Linked DNA regions of Homo sapiens: all the other regions are linked to region 1. The links come from fine-mapping of genetic effects on gene expression. A gene starts in region 1. Each other region holds a variant in brackets. All regions are shown on one strand. Distances are from middle to middle.

Region 1 (4,241 bases):
GCCCTCGGTGGGCGGTGCCGAGCACCGCAGCGCAGTATACAGCAGCAACGTGAGCACCAACAGGCTGGACACCGCGCAGATGGCAATGATCAAGTAAACATTGACATCCACCAGCGCCGCTTCTGGACCCACAGCGCCTGCCGACGCCCTCGACGAAGCCTGTGGCGCTTGGCCGCTCTCCACCAGCGACAACAGCACCGTTGCCGTGGCCGTCAGCGCGGGCTCACCGTGGTCCTTCACCAGCACCAGAAGGCGGTGGTGCGGCGCGTCCACCTCGTCCAGAGGGCGCGTCGTGCTGATCTCGCCAGTGTACAGCCCCACGCGGAACGGGATGCGCGCGCCGACCGCCGCCAGCTGCAATTCATACGAAAGCCACGCATTGTAGCCCGAATCGGCGTCCACCGCGCGCACCTTCGCCACCACGTGGCCTGCACCCACCGACCGCGGCATCAGCTCGCTCACTGTGCCTCCCGCGCTGCCAGCCCCGGGCGTCAGCAGCGCCGGAGCGTTGTCGTTCTCGTCCAGCACGAACACCTGCAGCGTCACGTTGCTGCCCAGAGGCGGCACGCCAGAGTCGCGCGCGCTCACCTGGAACTGCAACAGCTCCAGCTCCTCGTGGTCCAACGGCTGCAGCGCGTACACCTTGCCGCTCTCCGCGTGCACCGACACGTAGCTCGACAGCGCACGCTCGCCCACCCGCCGCTCCACCAGCGAGTAGGAGACCAGCGCGTTCTCCTGTGCGTCCGCGTCCTGAGCAGACACCGTGAAGATGTGGCAGCCCGGCGGATTGTTTTCCTTCACGAACACCGTGTACTCGGGCTGCGCGAACGCCGGCGCGTTGTCGTTCACGTCGGCCACCCCCACCGACACGCTGGCCGTGGCCCACAGCGAAGGCGAGCCCCCGTCCCGCGCGGTCACCACCAGTTCATAGGCTGATACGCTCTCGCGGTCCAGGGCGCTGTCCAGCACTAATGAGTAGTAGTTCTTGTAGGTGGACACCAGCTTGAAGGGGACATGCGGCGTCAAGGTGCAGGTGACCTGTCCATTTGAGCCAGAGTCACGATCGGACACACTGATTAGGGCAATAATGGCGCTAGGCTGAGTGTCTTCTCTGATGGGGAGTGACAAAGAAGTGATGGTAACCTCTGGGGCGTTATCATTTACATCTAGTACTTCCACCAAAAGGGTACAATGACCCGCCATTGGAATATTTCCTTTGTCAACTGCCTCCACGGATATTTCATATAATTTCTTTTCTTCGAAATCTAGTTTGCCTTTTGTCCTAATTTCTCCATTGTTCGGATTTATGGTAAATGCATATACCACTGCAGGCCATACAGGCCTTCTAAATGAGTAAACTATATCTCCATTTGTACCATCATCAGGATCTGTGGCATTTAGCTTGATCACTAATGTTCCATTGAAGGCGTTCTCTAACACCGTCACTTTATAAACGGATTGGTAAAATTCCGGGGCGTTGTCATTCACGTCCAGAATCGTGATGAGCAGCTGAACTGTGCCAGTCAGCTCGGGTTTACCTCCATCACTGGCTGTCAGTAATAAACTATGTTCCTGAATTTCCTCTCTGTCCAGTGTTTTCCTCAGTACAAGTGATAATGAAGACATTTGCTCAAGACTGTTTTGTGCGTCCAAAGTGAAATAATCGTTGGGATCCAGTCGGTAGGTCAATGCCGAGTTTACTCCAATATCTGCATCGGATGCGCCATCTAGTGGAAATCGAGTTTCCGGAGGTCTAGATTCTGCAATGATTATTCGTTTCTTGCTTTCAGGGAATATGGGCGGGTTGTCGTTAATGTCCCTCACCTTCACCTCCACATGGAAAACCTGCAGAGGCCTGTCCACGATCACCTCCAGGTGGATGCTGCACTCCGCGCTCCGCCCACACAGCTCCTCGCGGTCGATCCGAGAATTCACAAACAAAATGCCATTCTGCAGATTTACCTCCAGAAGGTCCCCGTGTCTTTTGGACGCCACCCGGAACAGGCGCGGCACCAGCTCCGCCAGCTCCAGCCCCAGGTCCTGAGCGATGCGGCCCACGAAGGTGCCGTGTTTTGCTTCCTCGGGGACGGAGTAGTGGAGCTGGCCACTACCCGTCTCCCAGGCTGCGAGGATCAGAAGCCAGAGCAGTAGTTGCCGCGGTCTTGGGCCTCCTTGCCAGGAAGACAGCATGGTACACTCCAAAAACCTCAGAGCTATCTGCAATATATACAACGCCTTACCTCAAACTGTCTCTCAAGGCCCAATTTTTATGGCTTCCTAGTGCGGAAGGATTCGCAAGAGGTATTCCGCTTTCTGCTATATTTTCTGCAGGAAGAAAGAAACGGCGGCTTTCTTCGCGGAAACGTTCTCAGTGAAGAGCGACACCATGCGCATGAACGTGTAAGTGTAAGTATGACTCAGTCTTCATATTTTCCATTGATGTAGTATTTTTTTGCCCCTTGCATTTCCTGACATTTTCACTGCAAATATGTAATTGAAGATTAAATGTTTACCTTCCCAGAAACAGCAAATCACTGCATTCTGCTCAACATTTTATATTAGCTGACAATTGGTTGATGAGTTTCATTTTGCCACAAATTTATTTTTCCATGTGTAAGAATTCCATGCAGAACTTTAAGACAAAGAATATTCGACACTCGTTTTGGGACAATTGATCGGTAGTTCTGCATAGTCATGTAGGTTTTTGTGGTACTGTCCTCTTCCTGTAATATTTTTCAAGACCTCCTCACACAACAGCCATTGACTCCAAAAGGAAACATAACAATCACATAAGAATAAAATCGGTGAAGGTGAAAAATATTGGTAACTGATATATCAGATTTTGAATAAGCACATCATATTAATAAATTTCCCTCAATGTGACTTGAGATGTAGATAAGATATTTATATTCAAAAGAAAGTGTTCAGTCAATATGTGTGGGATTTTGTATGTGAGTGTGTGTATGTGCATAAACACAATAATTTAGCCACAACAATGCTCTAAGGTTTTGGATTCTGTTTTTATAAAATATGCCTGGAACTAATATCCTATTGATTTAATAGAATTTAACTTACCGCCGCCGGCTGCAATTCATACGAAAGCCACGCATTGTAGCCCGAATCGGCGTCCTGGTTAAATAGAATTTAACCAGGAGGTTAAAGTTTCCATTTTCTCTCTCCATCTTACTTCATCATCACTGAGTAAAACCTTGCCGTCATTTAAATTGACTTTAATTTTCCAAGAAACAACAGCTAGACAAAGATGTTAACATATCTTTAGCAAGGAAAAGAGGAAGAGGATCTTACTTTTATCTATTGTTATAACTATCTCTACCAAGCCACAAAATCCCAGGCCAAATGGTGTAATGAAAAATATATCATAGCTCCAATAATTATCTGGCCTGTTCTGTGCACAACTCTATAGGAAATGACTGTTGGGTTTATTTCCATAGCTCTGCTCTCCTCTGAAAATTTAGGCAGAGTATTTGGTATTCTCTTACCCTCATCATCCTCTCCTGCTCCATTACTTTTACTAACATAGTATTTCTCTTCTAATTCTTTCTATCTGGCCCTACATTTCTTTATTTACCTCTTCACATAATTAGACTACATAGTCAACCATTTAAAATATGCCCTTCCAGACACTCTAGAGTCATTCACCTATTTATATTACTCCTCTAACATTCTTTTTAGCCTCCAACACGCAGTTACACTGACAATCCATTTTCTCTATGCTTCCTATTAAGCTGCTCAACATTGTCACTTAACCATGACTATTCTCTTCAAATTTACTCTCACCTTTACCTCAGTTGGGCTCTCAAGTGAATTGATAATTAACTCCTCCCTCTTGCTTACAGAGATTCTTCCATATTCTCTTTCCTCTCTTCTCAAATTCTCAACCTCATTTCCATCAGTTCACTTTCAGATGATTCACACATTGAGAGATGTGACCAAACAGAAATTCAATTGCTCTCTTCTTGTGTCATTTTTCCTTATATTATCTGTTTTCATTTTCTACTAGTTGTAAGGAAAAACTGTTCCCGCTTTTAAGGTCAACCATATGCTCTTAAAAATTATTTTCTATTCTCTCATGGTTTTCATCTAAATTCACCTGCTGCCTGTCTTATTTTTAGTATCTTATTTTTTACTTGTTTCTTTCACTCACACTATGAAGATAGTCAAACTTCTTTAACTAAAATATGTATACATACACACACGCACATACACTAATTTAAATGTTC
Region 2 (4,241 bases), 900 kb before region 1:
GTTGCTGGGTGTGCAGCTTAGAGAGGGGAAGGTGGTTCTAGGGCTGGCCCCTGGCAGACTGGCTGCTGGTGATGCTGCAGGGCTGTGATGATGCCCATCTGCCCCTTTCTTCCCCACTTCCCAGGTAAGCTCTCTGAAAACCAACAGTACAAGGGAGGCTTAATGGTGGCACAGGCTTGCTGCGTCTTCCCCAGTAATGATTTAATCATTTGTTTAGAATTTCCTGTGGCATTAATGATTATCCCCCAGAACGGGGGGAATAATTGGCTGTGTTCTCTTGGTGAGCGAGCTCCCTGTTGGCGGGGAGCTGAGCCTGTTCTTCTGTATTCTTCCTCTCTCACCTGCCTGCCACTCACTTGCTGGGTGATGGAGATGGATGAGCTCATGTGTGCAAAGGGGCTGGGAGGACACCTGGAGGCTGCAGGGAGTTGGGCGACGGGGGGACCGAGAAAGAGATACACAGAAATGCAGAGACCGTGGAGAAGTAGCAAGAATCAGAGACCGAGAGAGAAAATGATATTGCGAGTTTGTGTTCTTAGGCTGAGTAATCCCCAAACTGAGCTCACAGCTTCAGTTCTTCCTAGTAGCTTCACTCCTCATTTTGCAAAACCTTCTGTGCATGAACGTGTACTCTTGTGTGTATGCACATGTGGGCATCTCTAGAGCAGTGGTTCTCAGAGTGTAGTACTCGGGCCAGCAGCATCAGCAGCACTTGATGTGCTTGAAATGCACATTTTCAGGCCCCTCCCCAAACCTACTGAATCAGAAACCCAAGAAGTGGGGCTTAGCACTCAAATAGGATTTCTAGGTGATTCTGGTGCACCCAAATTTGAGAAGCCCTGTTCTGATGTATACAGTGTGTAGAGATGTGTGAGGTGGATGCATGTGCCATGTGAACATGGCCACGTGGACACACATGCGGGTGTCTGAGCATTGGAAACTGCAGCAGCAAAAGCCCAGGCAGAAATCAGGCCCCTGCCAGAGAGCCCAGGGGTGCCTGTTATTTGGAAGAAGGGGCTCAGGTCCAGCAGCAACTCCCCCATCATATCCACCTACCCCTTGGTGGCCACAAGACTCCACTACCTGGGATAAGAGGGGGCTGCTGTCCCTGCCAAGGCTTCCATAAAGTTGGCCTGTCAGCAGGATCTGCGGGGAGCTGCTAGTCTCATCCCTGACACTCCAGCGTGGCTGAAAGAGGGACTGCATCCTGGCCCCAGTACTCTAGGGATTTATAGTCCTAGGGACCCGTCCCGCTCCTCCTTGCTGCTCTTGGGCCTGAAGAAGTGAGTTTTCAGGGATTAACTGATTTAAGGAGGATTATGCAGGGCTAGGGGGAATGAATTATCAGCGGAGAGAACCGCAGCACCCACCTGCTGGAGCAGCCAGCAGTGCAGCATCACTGAGGCCTGCGGATGATATTTCAGGAGGAGGTGGGTAGGGTGAGAGAGACCCTTCAGGCTCTGAGGGTAGCTCCCAGGTGTGAAGGTGCTGCGTTGGGGAGGGGAGGGGAGGGGAGGGTAAAGGATAGGGGAGGAAAGGAGTCTGGGGAAGGAGGGGGCCGGTGGAGGAGGAGGATGAATAATTTGGTTAGGTAGAGGGGGAGGCCACAGGAGGGTGGATAGACTGATAGAAGGAAGGAAGGGAGGGAGAAGGGAGGGGTGGGTGAAGAGAGCACAGAGGGAGAAGCTCTGGATGGAGAGGGGAAGATAAGGAGAGGTGGGGATGCCAGGACAGTCGAATAAAGCAGTGCAATCTCAGGGGAGTCTGTAGGGAAGCTGGCGGGAGGGAAGTCACTAGGGAGTGGGGGCTCCATGCTTCGGGAGGAGGGGTGATGGGGGCCTCTCCCACCCTAGGCTAACCTGAGGGAAGGGGCATGGGCTTGAACTTCACAAGTAATCTTAGAAAAGTGAGCTGATTATTGAGTTTTGTATTTAACAAGACAAAAAAGTGGAAGGAGTATGAATAATTAGGAAGTAATGAAGACTTTGCAAAAATAGCATTTTATTTTTAAAAATTAGCAAAGAAAATATTGAGAACATGTGCAAATTGGCCATCTTGGCCAGGTGAGTGAGTCAGCAACCCCTGACAGCCCAGCTGGGCCTGGGGATGTGAGGAGGAAGCAGCCAGGCGGCCAAATCCTGCCAGAGAGTGGGTGGGGACGTTGACATCATTCACCTCCCCCCTGCTTCCCAGCCTGCGGCTTGGCTCACTCTGCTGGGGCACCTGGGACCCATTTGGGGGGAGACCGTGGCAGTCCCCAGCATGATGCTGACCTCAAACGTCTAGGCCCAAACCCCCAGCATCTCTTGCTTCCTTTAATTACCACTGGGGTCCTGTCATCCATTAATTTTGTGCAACCCTTTCTGAACTCCATTCTATTTTCAGCTTGTGAAGACCCCTTGGGGGTAACAAATTCCAGAAGTTGGACAGCAGCTGGTTAAAGCAGGACTTCCCTTTAGAAATCCTAA[A/G]TTAAGTAACAACAGCTTTAGAAGGGACCTCCTGGTTCTGGGCTGATGCTTCCTTAGCAGTAACTTGGGAGGTTTGGGTCAACACTACCCCCTCGGCCCTCTGCAAGATTTCTAATAGCCCCTTTGCTCCTACATTCCAAATGTTCTGAGCTTTGAGGTCAGACAGATTTAGGCCCAAACAGGGACTCTACCACTTCCTGGTTGTGTGACCTTTAGCAAATCACTTATCTTTCTGTCTTCAGTGTTTCCATCTGAAAAATGATAAATAATCATACCTTCTATTTCCAAGATTGTTGGGACATGATAAAATAATGTATGCAAATCAACTCAAATAGTTCTTGGCACATGGTAAGTGGGAGCTCTGTGGAGCACCCACTCTGTGCCAAATGCTGTTCTACGGGCAGGTGATAGAATACGACAGGGAGGCCCCTGCCCTCAGGGAGCTTCCATCCCAGGAGGATGCTGGAGATGACCATAGGCCCGGAAGCAAATCAGTGGGGGATTCCAAAGAGTGATCTGAGCTATGAGGACAATGAAAAGGTCACGGGCAGGTGGGGGATAGATGGCTCATCAGGGAAGGCCTTTCTGGTAAAGTGACATTTGGGCTGTGACATGTGAGCTGAGAAGAAGCCAGATGAGTGTGGATGTGGAGGAGGCATTCTTGTGAGTAGTCTCAGGATTTGTGCGATCCCAGGGGAGTCTGTAGGGAAGCTGGCTGGAGGGAAGTCACTAGGGAGTGGGGGCTCCCTGCTTAGGGAGGAGGGGTCACGGGGGCCTCTCCCACCCTAGGCTAACCTGAGGGAAGGGGCATGGGCTTGAACTTCACAAGTAATCTGAGGAACTACTTACAAATCCTGAGATTTGTAAGTAGTTCAGGGCCACATTTTTTGCATCCTGAATGGTTTCATAGAATTGGACTCCTTGCCCCTCATCCCAACTCTTTATCTCAGGTTTCCCCTGTCTCTGCGCTTAGAGTCCTCTTGTCTGTTAATGGGTCCCGGGTCTGGGAAAGTGGTAGAGCAAACGGGGCTAAGAGCCCCGCCTCCTCCTTCCCTCACTCCCTCACTCCCACACGGTCCCTCCCGTGGTTCTCCTGCCGCCTCGCTGGCTGCCCAGGGTGATGGATGCCTCCTTGCAGGGCTGAGTCATGTGTGCCTCTTGCAAGCTCTGGGCAACATCTCTGTTACTGCTGTGCTCCCTGCTCCACTCCCCTGTGGGAAGGCAGATTTATAGGGGTTTTCCCCGGGGACTGCACGTGCATCTGCTTCACCCTGGCTTGGAGGCTGCAGGAGAATGGGCCGCTGCACAGAGAAATTTTCTTCAATGCACAGATGGGGAAACTGAGACCTGGAAGGGAGAAGAGGCTCCTAAGGTTGTGCTGCCACTGAGCAGGGGGCTGAGCAGGGGCTTGAGGCCTGATCTCCAGACTCGGTCCAGAGCTCTCTTTCCTGGCACACTTGGCTGTTGGCCCAAATTTAGGTCTTTGTCAGGGTCTTAGCTTCTCAAATTCCAGACCTAGGTCTGTGCAGCCCTCTCTGAGGAGCCCCAGCCCAGCACTCTGTGTAAGTAGCCTCTATTAGTAGTGATGGCCTAGAGTGCTGTGTTGAGGTTTTTGATGCTGCACGGGGCTTCATAGGAAAGTGTTATACAATAGTCCAGTGCTTCTCAAACTCCAATGTGCATCAGAATCACCTGGAGGACTTGTTAAGCCACAGATTGCTGGCTTTTACCCCTAGAGTTTCCCATTCAAGGGGTCTGGTGTGAAGTCTGATG
Region 3 (4,241 bases), 150 kb before region 1:
GGTTGCAGTGAGCTGAGATCACGCCACTGCACTCCAGCCTGGGCGACAGAGTGAGACTCTGTCTTAAATAAATAAATAAATGAAACATAAATAAAAAAGAAAATGCCATCATGATTATGTAGGAGAATGTCGTATTCTTAGGAAGTGTATGCTGCTTTATTTAGCAGTGATGTGTCATGTCTAAAACATACTTTGAAATGATACACCAAAAATTACACAGAGAGGAAGGAAGAGAGTGAAGGACAGAAAGGGAGACAGGGAAGGAAAGGTTAAGGGAGAGAGAAAGAGAGAAGTAAATGTGGCCAATGTTAAATGGTGAATCTTGATGAAAGGAGTATAGAGGTTTATTTTACTATTCTGTTGACTTTTCTATAGGTTTGAACTTTTTAAAATAAATAAAATTGAGCATTGCAATGATCTTTTCAGGCCAAGTACTAATTTCTAAAATGAAGAATAGTGGTTTCAAATGAAGTCATTTGAACCTACAGCCAAGTAGCTATGAGTACTAATTGTTTAAATATAATTATCTTAAAACTTGGGCCGGTTGCAGTGGCTCACCCCTGTAATCCCAGCAATTTAGGAGGCTCAGGCAGGTGGATCACTTGAGGCCAGGAGTTCAAGACCAGCTTGGCCAACATGGTGAAACCTCATCTCTACTAAAAATACGAAAATAAGCCGGACATGGTGGCGTGCACCCGTAATCCCAGCTACCTGGGAGGCTGAGGCATAAGAATCACTTGAACCCGAGAGGTAGAAGTTGCAGTAAGCCAAGATCACACCACTGCACTCCAGCCTGGGCAACAGAGCAAGACTCTGTCTCAAAAATATAATATAATATAATATAATATAATATAATATAATATAATATAACATAATATAATATAATATAATGTAATAATTTTTAAACTATAAAACAGAAATTAGAGGAGAAATTGGAGATAGTCAGTATAGGGAACACTTTCAAGGAATTTTTTGTATAAAGAAGAGAGAAATGTGCAGTAGCTGGAAGGAAAAACGAGGTCAATAAATAGTTACTTTAAGATGTGAGAAATAACAACATGCTTGTATGGTGATGGGAAAGATCCAGTAGGAAAGAGAAAATTGATAATACAGTGGTGGTAGAAAGCAATGTCCTTGAGTACATGACACAGGGAGTTCATCTAGTAGTCACAGAACATAACATACAGTACAAGAGAACAAAGGCAGGTCAGTAGGTCAATGAGATAAGACTTATGGGCAGCTCCTCTGATCACTTCATTTATCAAATTTATTTGAAGTTAGATGCTCTACTGATGGAGGAGTGGGAGGAGTGCTGAAAGTTGGAAAGACATCAGAATGTAGGAATTGGTCAAGGTAGGATGGATGCAGACGAGAGAGTAAATGGGCTAGGAAAATACTATATAATTGCCAGACAACGTTAAGGGCCACTTGAGATTTGTAATCACAAATATAAAATAAGAACAGCTAGCAATATTGTGATGTTTTTCTCCTGCTACATTAACATATGTGAATACAAGCCTGATGTGGGCAAAGTTTTAGGTTTACAAGTCTTTGAATTTATAAATCTAGTTTTTGATTTATGAAGCTTCGGATTTTTATAAGCAAGTATATTAAAGTGAGGGAGGATCATGGATTTTAAGGTATATAAAATGCAGTGATTATAATGATTGACCCCAGACTTTTCACTGGATAAAAAGAATTAGGACATGAAGGTGGTAGGGATGA[C/T]GAAAAGATGGTAGGACTAATAGATTTTATGTATTGGAATGGTTGGCATTATTTTCGGGTCTTAGAGGGAGTAAGCTGGGAAAATTGTAGGGGGCAATTAGAAAGTTTGATGCTTGAAATTGATACTTAGAAATTAGGAAAGTGTTGCAGTCACTGATAACATAAAGATATTTGACCTTAGATGGGAGTAGGTAGCTGAGGTCAGTAGAGCACTGGGTAATTCAAGGAGAGAAGGTCAAGGAATGGAGAAGGTAGGCTGTTAGAAGAAACATCTATGTGGATATTGAAATCACCAAGTATTATGTTTAGAATAGTACTAGAGAAGATATTGAGCCAGCAGGTAAAATCATCAAGAAATGACAGTGAGTGACATGGGATCAGGAGATGACTGCTACAAGGAGAGGTAGTGGGTGTTAAAATTTGACCGCATGAGATTCTAAGCTGAATGTTGTTAGGCAGAAGGGAGATAGGGAGATCTGGAAGTGGCAAGGTGGGGGGCAAGGTAGGGTGATACAGAAGTGGCAAGTGGTAGGATGATCTGGAAGGAGCAGGGAAGATAATTTCTTACTTCTAGGCCCAGTGGGATTAAAGGCTAAGGAAAAATCACAGCTACATTTTGAGAAGAATAATGGAAATAATCTCCTTAGGGAGAACCAGTGTTCGGTTTAAACAAAGACAGCAAATTTTCAGAAAAGAGGCTGCAAACATAGGGAATTTTGCTAATGACTGACCACAGGGCATAATACAAAGGCTTCAGGAGTTAAGGAAAGATAGAAATAGCGTAAAAAAAATCTACAGAACAACATGGGATTTACTCTCTGAGTGAAAGGAGATGGTCGGGGAGTTCTGAACTTTTGGAAACTGGCATAAACCACGACCTTAATGTTGATGGTCACATAGTGATGGTAAGGCTATAAGTTGGGGGTGAAGGATTTGGATCGTGTCACAAATATACTGAATTCTGGGGCTCTCGCTTAGCTAAAACTGATGTTTTCCTTTAAGCCCAGGGCCACATAGAGACTGTGTTTGACCTGTGCCAATGCAGATATGGAGACCAGAGACAAGGGCATTTGCTGTCTGGTGTGTTTCTTTCCATCTGTCCTGGATATTATCCATAAATGGAGGAATCAAGTTTCTGGCTTTGTACGCTTTTTGAAAACAAATCCATTCCTGAAGCCCTTGCTTCTCAGATGATCAGAATATTGGGATGATAGTTGTGCTGCTGATGCTGCTAGCTCTCACATGGGGCAGTGGCCTGAGAAAACCAAAGGGCGATAAGCATGACTAAAATTTAGCTCTGAGCTGAAGAATATTCATGTTTTCCTGTGGCTAGGATGGGTACTCTTGAAATATGGAAAGTTCAGTTAGAACCTCCCAAATGAATTTTTTTTTTAAGTTTAAAAATTCGCTACTTTTTATCACCAAGATCAGAAACACAATGGCCTAATCAGTAACTGTGGACATTTTGAAACAGCCTAATATTTAAGAGGAAATTAAAAGTAAGCCTTGCTACTATCAATGTTAAAAATCACAAATAGACACACACATATTGAGTCACTGTAATAATTCTCTGGTCCTAGTTCACTGAGTCTCTGCAGATTCAATTTGGCATCAAATAACAGCCCATTCTTCTCTGCCACATTGGTCATTTGGAACTGATGAGGAGACAGATAGCACTTTAGCTGCACAGAAGAAGAAAGAAGTGCTCTAAGGTGACATTTTGTTTTGAAAGAAGTCTGGAGATGTAAGTTTGTCTACCTGTTTTTATAAACAACACTTACCAAAATTGGAGACTTTCACCATAATATCTTTTCTTAAACCAACTTAATTTATTAAGGGTTAAGATACTTGAATTTGCCTTTGGTTATGTCCGTAACACCTAAAACTCATCAAATTATTCTTACCTACAATTTCCTCATCTATGCAAGTGAAAAATAAAACTGCCTGAAAGCATTAAAAGGGACTTCCGAGTCATTGCTGATTCGAAACCAGGGCGCTTCAACTTTAACCTTCAAGATAAGCATGTTCACATCTTCAATTCCAGGCGTTGGCTAACATGCAAGACAAGCAAACTGCTCTCAGAAGAGACCTCACTTATGCAAAGAAGGCAGCCAGAGGCAGATGCCAAATTCAAAGTGGGACCTTGTAAGTAATGATTACAAAATGGATTAGGTTCCTAGAAGGACATGATATATGGACCTAGAGGGATGAACAAGCTTTTGTTAAATAACATGCTAAGATGATGACAGGAATTTAGTTCACCTTGATACCAATTCACCTAAAGTCAATTCTCCTGATGCCAATTTACCCTAATTAATCATCTAAAATTATCATTTTCTAGAGCAGTGGTTCTCAATCCTAGCTATGCATCGAGTGATTCTAACCTGGGGAGTTTTTCAAAACAATGCCCAGGCCACAACCCCAGAGATTCTGATTTATTTGGCTTGTAGTAGAGCCCAGGCATTGTCAGATAAAGTGTAAAACATCAGTTAGATGTAAATTTTAGAGAAAACAAA

The links. PIP is the estimated chance that this variant, and not a neighbour inherited with it, causes the effect.
Region 2: its variant is the best candidate, but not a certain one, in a credible set for the expression of PCDHA13 in prefrontal cortex (BrainSeq, PIP 0.79).
Region 3: its variant is the best candidate, but not a certain one, in a credible set for the expression of PCDHA13 in lung (TOPMed, PIP 0.56).

Annotation. Positions count from the first base shown.
Region 1 is chr5:140,880,218-140,884,458 of GRCh38, reverse strand. It overlaps PCDHA13 (protocadherin alpha 13), which reads right to left and starts at 2,335. Exons shown (of 4, transcript NM_018904.3): 1 at 1-2,335. The coding sequence starts at 2,190. All of the region lies in intron 1 of PCDHA1 (protocadherin alpha 1), which reads right to left. The region is part of intron 1 of PCDHA2 (protocadherin alpha 2); the gene reads right to left. The region is part of intron 1 of PCDHA3 (protocadherin alpha 3); the gene reads right to left. It also overlaps PCDHA4, PCDHA5, PCDHA6, PCDHA7, PCDHA8 and PCDHA9, and 4 more genes. RefSeq lists an enhancer at 116-700.
Region 2 is chr5:141,777,762-141,782,002 of GRCh38, reverse strand. No RefSeq gene overlaps it. Among named protein-coding and RNA genes, the nearest start is that of ARAP3, 98 kb to the right of the region's middle. The variant A/G (reference allele first, on the strand shown) is at 2,469.
Region 3 is chr5:141,026,073-141,030,313 of GRCh38, reverse strand. It overlaps LOC124901090 (a long non-coding RNA gene), which reads left to right and starts at 3,770. Exons shown (of 2, transcript XR_007058970.1): 1 at 3,770-3,870. The variant C/T (reference allele first, on the strand shown) is at 1,726.